Linked DNA regions of Homo sapiens. The protein of the gene in region 1 purifies or fractionates together with the protein of each later gene. This does not show direct contact. Each region holds a gene or a part of one and is shown on either strand. Other genes may lie near its edges. The genes, in order: HOXA3 and KDM6A.

What was found.
Region 2: the proteins of HOXA3 (region 1) and KDM6A purify together in Homo sapiens (affinity purification with western blotting, with the first as the bait; one study listed by BioGRID). This does not show direct contact.

What each region holds. Positions count from the first base shown.
Region 1 is NC_000007.14:27,107,524-27,111,346, reverse strand, and holds part of HOXA3 (homeobox protein Hox-A3), read left to right. Parts: intron 1-586; 5' UTR 587-706; coding exon 707-1,232; intron 1,233-2,626; coding exon 2,627-3,432; 3' UTR 3,433-3,823. UniProt on the Homo sapiens protein: Sequence-specific transcription factor which is part of a developmental regulatory system that provides cells with specific positional identities on the anterior-posterior axis.
Region 2 is NC_000023.11:45,106,912-45,110,280, reverse strand, and holds part of KDM6A (lysine-specific demethylase 6A), read right to left. Parts: intron 2,872-3,369; coding exon 2,745-2,871; intron 203-2,744; coding exon 32-202; intron 1-31. UniProt on the Homo sapiens protein: Histone demethylase that specifically demethylates 'Lys-27' of histone H3, thereby playing a central role in histone code. Demethylates trimethylated and dimethylated but not monomethylated H3 'Lys-27'.

The DNA.
Region 1 (3,823 bases):
GGGGCAAATTGCCTGAAATTTTTTGTGCAAACCTCTCTTGGGAGCAGGAAGGTCCAAGAAGGAGCTGGGTGGGAAGTTACCCCATCTCAGGGCTCTTTTGGCAAACATCAGTCCTAAAGCGGAGAAAACATTGGCGACCCAAGCTCCCCTTTGCCTCCTCGTTCCCTTCCCAACATTCCCAGAGTGGAGGAGTCTTGGGCCCTCTGGAGGAGGCCAAGGAGCAGAAACTAAGCGACACCCCAAGTTTCTTCTTCCCTGGAAAAGAAAGATCCCAGCCTTTTTCCTTTCTAGCCTATCAAGCCTTTCTCCTTTTGGATCCCGGCTCCTGAGAATCAGCTTGCAGCCCTCACTCATTCTCCTTCTCCCCGGAAAATCCCCCAACTCCAGACGCAAGTTAAGCAAATATTTGTAGCTGCCAGTAAATTCCAGCGGTTTTTTATAGCACGGCTCCCTGCGCCCGGGGCCAAGTCGTGCTGCTAAATATTGCTGACCACTTTTTCTTTTATGGCTTTCATGTCACTTAGCTATTGAGAGTAAGATGGATTTGCGCGGAGCCCTCACCGCGCTGCGCTTCTCGCCCCACCAGGTCTGCGCGGGGCGGCCATTGGCGGCGGAGTGTCACGTGACCGCGGGGGCGTGCCAATGTGCGCCCTCACGGGTGTCAAACCCCTGTCAGAGTGTGCGATCAAGATCGTGAAACAACGCGATGCAAAAAGCGACCTACTACGACAGCTCGGCGATCTACGGTGGCTACCCCTACCAGGCAGCCAACGGGTTCGCTTATAATGCCAATCAGCAGCCGTACCCGGCGTCCGCCGCTTTGGGCGCCGACGGCGAGTACCACCGACCCGCCTGCTCCCTCCAGTCTCCCTCCAGCGCCGGGGGCCACCCCAAGGCACACGAACTGAGTGAGGCGTGCCTGCGCACCCTGAGCGCCCCACCTAGCCAGCCTCCAAGCCTGGGAGAGCCGCCCCTGCACCCGCCGCCGCCCCAGGCCGCGCCCCCTGCCCCACAGCCGCCTCAGCCCGCACCTCAGCCCCCTGCACCTACCCCTGCCGCGCCCCCGCCTCCCTCTTCTGCCTCCCCTCCTCAGAATGCCAGCAACAACCCTACCCCTGCCAACGCGGCCAAGAGCCCCCTGCTCAACTCACCCACAGTGGCCAAACAAATCTTCCCCTGGATGAAAGAGTCTCGACAAAACACAAAGCAGAAAACCAGCAGCTCCAGCTCAGGTAAAGGAGTGCCTTCTGGAAGAGGGTCCTCTGGCCTGGCTCCTGGTCCCCAAGCTACTGCCCACGACATCCAGCACAGCCTAGGAGCGATGGAGCATGTCTGGAATTCACTGCTCCCACACCACTGCCCACCAAAAAGGTTTTCATAGTCTTTGCAACTTAGGGAGGTGATAGGCCTCTGTAGGCTGGAAAACACCAGAGACCTGCTGGGAGTCCCTCTGGACTTCTCCAAGGGCAAGTAGGGTCTAGTGCAGTTGGAATCTCTTCTTGCTCCACTCTTGGAGTTAGGACCTCTGTGCAGAAACAACCTGAGCTCCACTGTCTATCTTTTTAGCACAGCTCTTCTAATGAAACAGTGACATCCTCCCCTTACTGAAATGTGGCAGAATAAAAACAGGCCTAATCACCCTCCAAGACAGAATCAATGCTTTGCCTATAATCAGAGCCAATTTTTGCTCCAGCAGATGGAGTGGCTGCCTTACCTCTGGGAAGACCCTACTCAGACTTAGTACAATGAAAGCAGCCAAAGATCTCCTGGGGGAGGGGGATGCAGACTTATCATCCTAATGGGAACCACATGGGCCTCCTGAAAGCGGGCTCCAGTAGAGGAAAGGCCCCAGGCTTTAGGCTTCCTAGCATTTTGGTTACCTTTGCCCCTGCCTTCTCCAGTTGCCAGTGCCCTGCTCTGAGCCTGAGCATCTGGGACTTCCAGAGCTAGGATCTGGGGGGCCAGGGAAGACAGAAGGGTACAAGATTAGTGGACAAAAGCTGGGGCTGGCTGCTTGATGACATAGGGAACCCTAAAGAATAGGACCTAGCATGAAGGGCCTAGGCCTCCCCACCAGAAATACCTTCAATGGGATCTCTTCTTTGGGCAGAGAAGGCCTTCCAGTTTGAGGTTTCCAGTCTGCCCATCTCCTCTGGGTAGAGAGAAAAAAGTGGCCAGTTGAAGCTACTGCCTAATTATTGTCAGACAGTGTGGGAGGGAAATGAGTGTGTACATTAGGTTTCCCACATTTCAGTTACTGTGAAGAGAATGGAGATGCTGAGACCGGCCCACAGGGAGGCTGTTGTCCGATAGGCCAAAGGGACCAGTAAATGAGTCAGAAAGTTAATAGCTCTAAACAGAAAATCCAGACCAGGAAGGCAAACCGGGGGTTCTACTTCTCTGTCCTTTCCCCCGAGAAGGCTGTGATTTGCTCCTTGGCTAAATGAGGGAGTATCACTGTTTTACCCACCAGGAGAGAGGATAGCACCTAGTTCCTACTTCTCTCTGGGACCTGACGGATGCAGGAACCTTTGGGGCCTGGTGGAAGGAGGGGCCGGGCTGGGTCAGGGGCTGGGCGGGGCCGCGGCAGCCCCTGACGCCGCTCTTCCTCTCTCTGTCCTCGCAGGCGAAAGCTGCGCTGGCGACAAGAGCCCGCCGGGGCAGGCTTCGTCCAAGCGCGCGCGCACGGCCTACACGAGCGCGCAGCTGGTGGAGCTGGAGAAAGAGTTCCACTTCAACCGCTACCTGTGCCGGCCGCGCCGGGTGGAGATGGCCAATCTGCTGAACCTCACTGAGCGCCAGATCAAGATCTGGTTCCAGAATCGCCGCATGAAGTACAAAAAGGATCAGAAGGGCAAGGGCATGCTAACGTCATCGGGGGGCCAGTCTCCAAGTCGCAGCCCCGTGCCCCCCGGAGCCGGTGGCTATCTGAACTCTATGCATTCGCTGGTCAACAGCGTCCCGTATGAGCCCCAGTCGCCCCCGCCCTTCTCCAAGCCCCCCCAGGGTACCTACGGGCTGCCCCCCGCCTCCTACCCTGCGTCCCTGCCCAGCTGCGCACCCCCGCCACCCCCACAGAAGCGCTACACGGCGGCAGGGGCGGGCGCAGGGGGCACCCCCGACTATGACCCGCACGCTCATGGCCTGCAGGGCAACGGCAGCTATGGGACCCCACACATACAGGGAAGCCCCGTCTTCGTGGGGGGCAGCTATGTGGAGCCCATGAGCAACTCCGGGCCAGCCCTCTTTGGTCTAACTCACCTCCCCCACGCTGCCTCGGGCGCCATGGACTATGGGGGTGCCGGGCCGCTGGGCAGCGGCCACCACCACGGGCCGGGGCCTGGGGAGCCGCACCCCACCTACACGGACCTTACCGGCCACCATCCTTCTCAGGGAAGAATTCAGGAAGCACCCAAGCTCACCCACCTGTGATAGTGGGCTTGGGGCTACGCGCCAGGAGAGTCTCCCCCCACCCACCTTTTTTCTTTGGTTGCTTTTTTTTTTTTTTTTTTTTAGGTTCTTCCTGCCCTTTCCTTCCTTCCTTTTCTCTCTTCTCCGCCCCGCACTCCGTTTCCCGGTTTCCCCCCTCGTTGGTAAGGCGTTTTTATAGTTTATGTGACGTAGCAATCTTGGTTGCTGGAATGGCTGTATCATAGCGATATTTATCTCTTCCTGCTCCTCGATAGGCCACTGGCCCTGCACCCTTTACCTTCTCCACTCTTTGATCAGAAACAGGGTATATGAACAAATTTTCTAGTCGAGTTTTCAATGTGAATTTGTTCTTACATTATGGCTCCCGAGGGGAAGCGATTACTTTTTTTAA
Region 2 (3,369 bases), on another chromosome or scaffold:
AACTATGTACTCACATGTTGATTTGACTTACTAATGTAAATTGGTCATAGACTTGCATCAGGTCCTCCATTTTGTACTGTTCTAGCACCACAAAGTTTTCCAAGTTTCCGCTTGTTTTTCGTGCACAATCTTGGCAATGTACTATGTAGGTCTTTCGTGAATTACTCTCATTAGTGACAAAAAGCAGATCAAAAACCTCCACCTGTTTTATACAAGAGAAAAACGTATTCAATAGAGATAGTGGTATTTACTGTACTGCTTTAGTATAATCATGGAATTCTACTTGAATGAAATTGTGGACAGTGATCTCTGGTTAAGAGTAGGTGGTAAGAAAAACATGGCTGTGTTTGAGAATCTTTAACAGACCAGGTTTATTTTGCACCAAATCCAAAGACATGGGTAGTAATGCATATTTAGGGGAATAATCAAAGGGAATGACATACTCATGACAACCACTGGCAAAGCCCAGTTCAAAAGTTTGATAAAGGTCAACCTATTTTTAAATCTAAAACATTAGTATACAATCAGACATAAGTGATCATTTTTATGTATTCATGAGTACAGCATGATTTTAGAAATAATACCTCTATCTTATACAGAAAGATTGATGAGTTGCTAGGGTTCAGGTAGGATAAGGAACAACACACCTAACTGGAATCTATCTGATCTCCTAATGACTCACTTTGGTCAGGCCATATGACATTTAAAAAAAAAATCAATGGATTCTATCATTTCAAATAAAGGTTGATGCTAGAATTACAGAATTTCAAGGTTTGAAATGGACCATCAACATCCTGTCTTTGGCTTATCCTTAAATTTCTTCAATGACAGAAAACTCTTATGATCCCATGTCTTCTTTTAACAGTTAACTACAATCCTAGAGTTCACCATGTTATCCATTACTGTCAACAAGCAGCAATACAAACCTAGTGACCTGAGCTAGAAAATTGGTGAGCATTCTTCAACTTGTCCTTCCACTTCTGCCATTTAATGAGGTGTCTCGCTGATTTTACCCTCTAAATATTTTTGAATTCTTTCCCTTCTTTAATATTCCCATTGCCAGGTTCTAGTCTAGGCCTTAAAATAACTTTTTTTTTTTTACAGGTACTTTATTTATTTATTTATTTATTTATTTATTTATTATTATTATTATTTTTTTAAATTATACTTTAAGTTTTAGGGTACATGTGCACATTGTGCAGGTTAGTTACATATGTATACATGTGCCATGGTGGTGCGCTGCACCCACTAACTCATCATCTAGCATTAGGTATATCTCCCAGTGCTATCCCTCCCCCCTCCCCCCATCCCACAACAGTCCCCAGAGTGTGATGTTCCCCTTCCTGTGTCCATGTGATCTCACTGTTCAATTCCCACCTATGAGTGAGAATGTGCGGTGTTTGGTTTTTTGTTCTTGCGATAGTTTACTGAGAATGATGGTTTCCAATTTCATCCATGTCCCTACAAAGGACATGAACTCATCATTTTTTATGGCTGCATAGTATTCCATGGTGTATATGTGCCACATTTTCTTAATCCAGTCTATCATTGTTGGACATTTGGGTTGGTTCCAAGTCTTTGCTATTGTGAATAATGCTGCAATAAACATACGTGTGCATGTGTCTTTATAGCAGCATGATTTATAGTCATTTGGGTATATACCCAGTAATGGGATGGCTGGGTCAAATGGTATTTCTAGTTCTAGATCCCTGAGGAATCGCCACACTGACTTCCACAATGGTTGAACTAGTTTACAGTCCCATAACTCTTAAGACCACTGCAATAGCTTATATATCGCTGTCCTTTCCAACCACTTTTCTCCCTGAAACACATATCTTACTTACCCTTAGTTGCCTGCTCAAAACCTTTTAATGGCTTCAATAACCTTGGAATATCAAATTCCTTAAAACCATTCAAGATGTGCTATAAATTAAATGCCACCTAGACTTATGAGCGGAATTTGCACAGTCTGTGTTCCAGCCAAATCGGAACACATTCAACCTTTTCTAAAACCATTTCATTTCCCTGTTCTCTTCTTGTGCCTATAGCCCATGACAGTCTACCTCCGATTCTCATCACTTTTTTAGTCTACTTGATATCATACTCTTTTTTCCAAGGATGGACTCAAATGCTAATACGTTTGTGAGTTCTTATGCCAATACTAGAAGAAAAAATTAGGTCATTTTCCCCCTCAGTGTTATCATTAACAGGAAGTCCAACTTCACATTCATCATAGTCTCATGTACATTACAATTAGTTGTTTATAATCTGTCTGCTCCAAGTAGAATTTAAGCTCCTTCATAGGAGGCACCACATCTTTGTTCCTGCACCTCTTGCAAGCCTTGGCCACACAAGATTGACAAATGTATTGTTAATTGCACCAGAGAGGACTGATAATCGATCTGCCTAGAGTTACACCAAACATCCAGTTTATTGGCATCTGTGTACATCTAGATTGTTCTTAGTTTAAAATCTCAGACTAAATTTGCTGATTATTGTCTGTTGAAGATCTACCACAAAAATGACTCTGCAGTAGATACTTTTAAGGTTAATTCACAGTGAAATATCATTATTATCACACTGAATTTTAATATAATGGCTAAGCAACAAAATTGAATCCAATGTTAATTACTATAAACTGGATTACATAAAAGTATAAAAAAGTTTTTTAAAAATAAAGAGAAACCAACAGTGGAGAGGGAAGAGGCTTTATAAAACAACTGTGGATAAAAACAATTACTTACTTCACAAATGCTACAGTAATGAGCTGGTTCTTCTTTTGTCCGCCCATGCCATATAATCTCTTTTCCTGCAGCAATGAGAGCTTCCCTCAATGTCTGACATTGCTTCAGAGTTCTTAGAAGACAATACCTATTGTGGGGGAGAAATTATTTGTGACCAGCAACTGAATATTGAATATTTTTAGCATAAAAGATATACCAACTAGAAATAATGCCAAGAGACTTGATTCTAATGTCTATGACTTCATAATTTTTCTTTCATCAATTTATCAAATATTCTCAGATTTTAAAATGACAATGCTCAGCAGGCCTGATGAAGACAATATTAAAACATTTAAAGTTGAGAAAAGTAATATCTGGATATCAAAATATAATGGTCTTAGTACATAAAAACTGACTCCCTGCTTAAATGTGAGTTGCTAATTTTGGCTCTTAATTTGGGCAAGTCAGTTAACCTCTCTGGGAGTCAATTTCCTCATCCGTGAAATAAGGGGTATGAATTCCAGATATGAACTTCTATGATTCTAGTAAGGCAGGAAGGCACATTATTTTTTTTTTAATCAACACTACCTAAACACTCATTAACAGCATCATCTGTACAGCTGCTTTTGAAACTCAAGTCTATAAG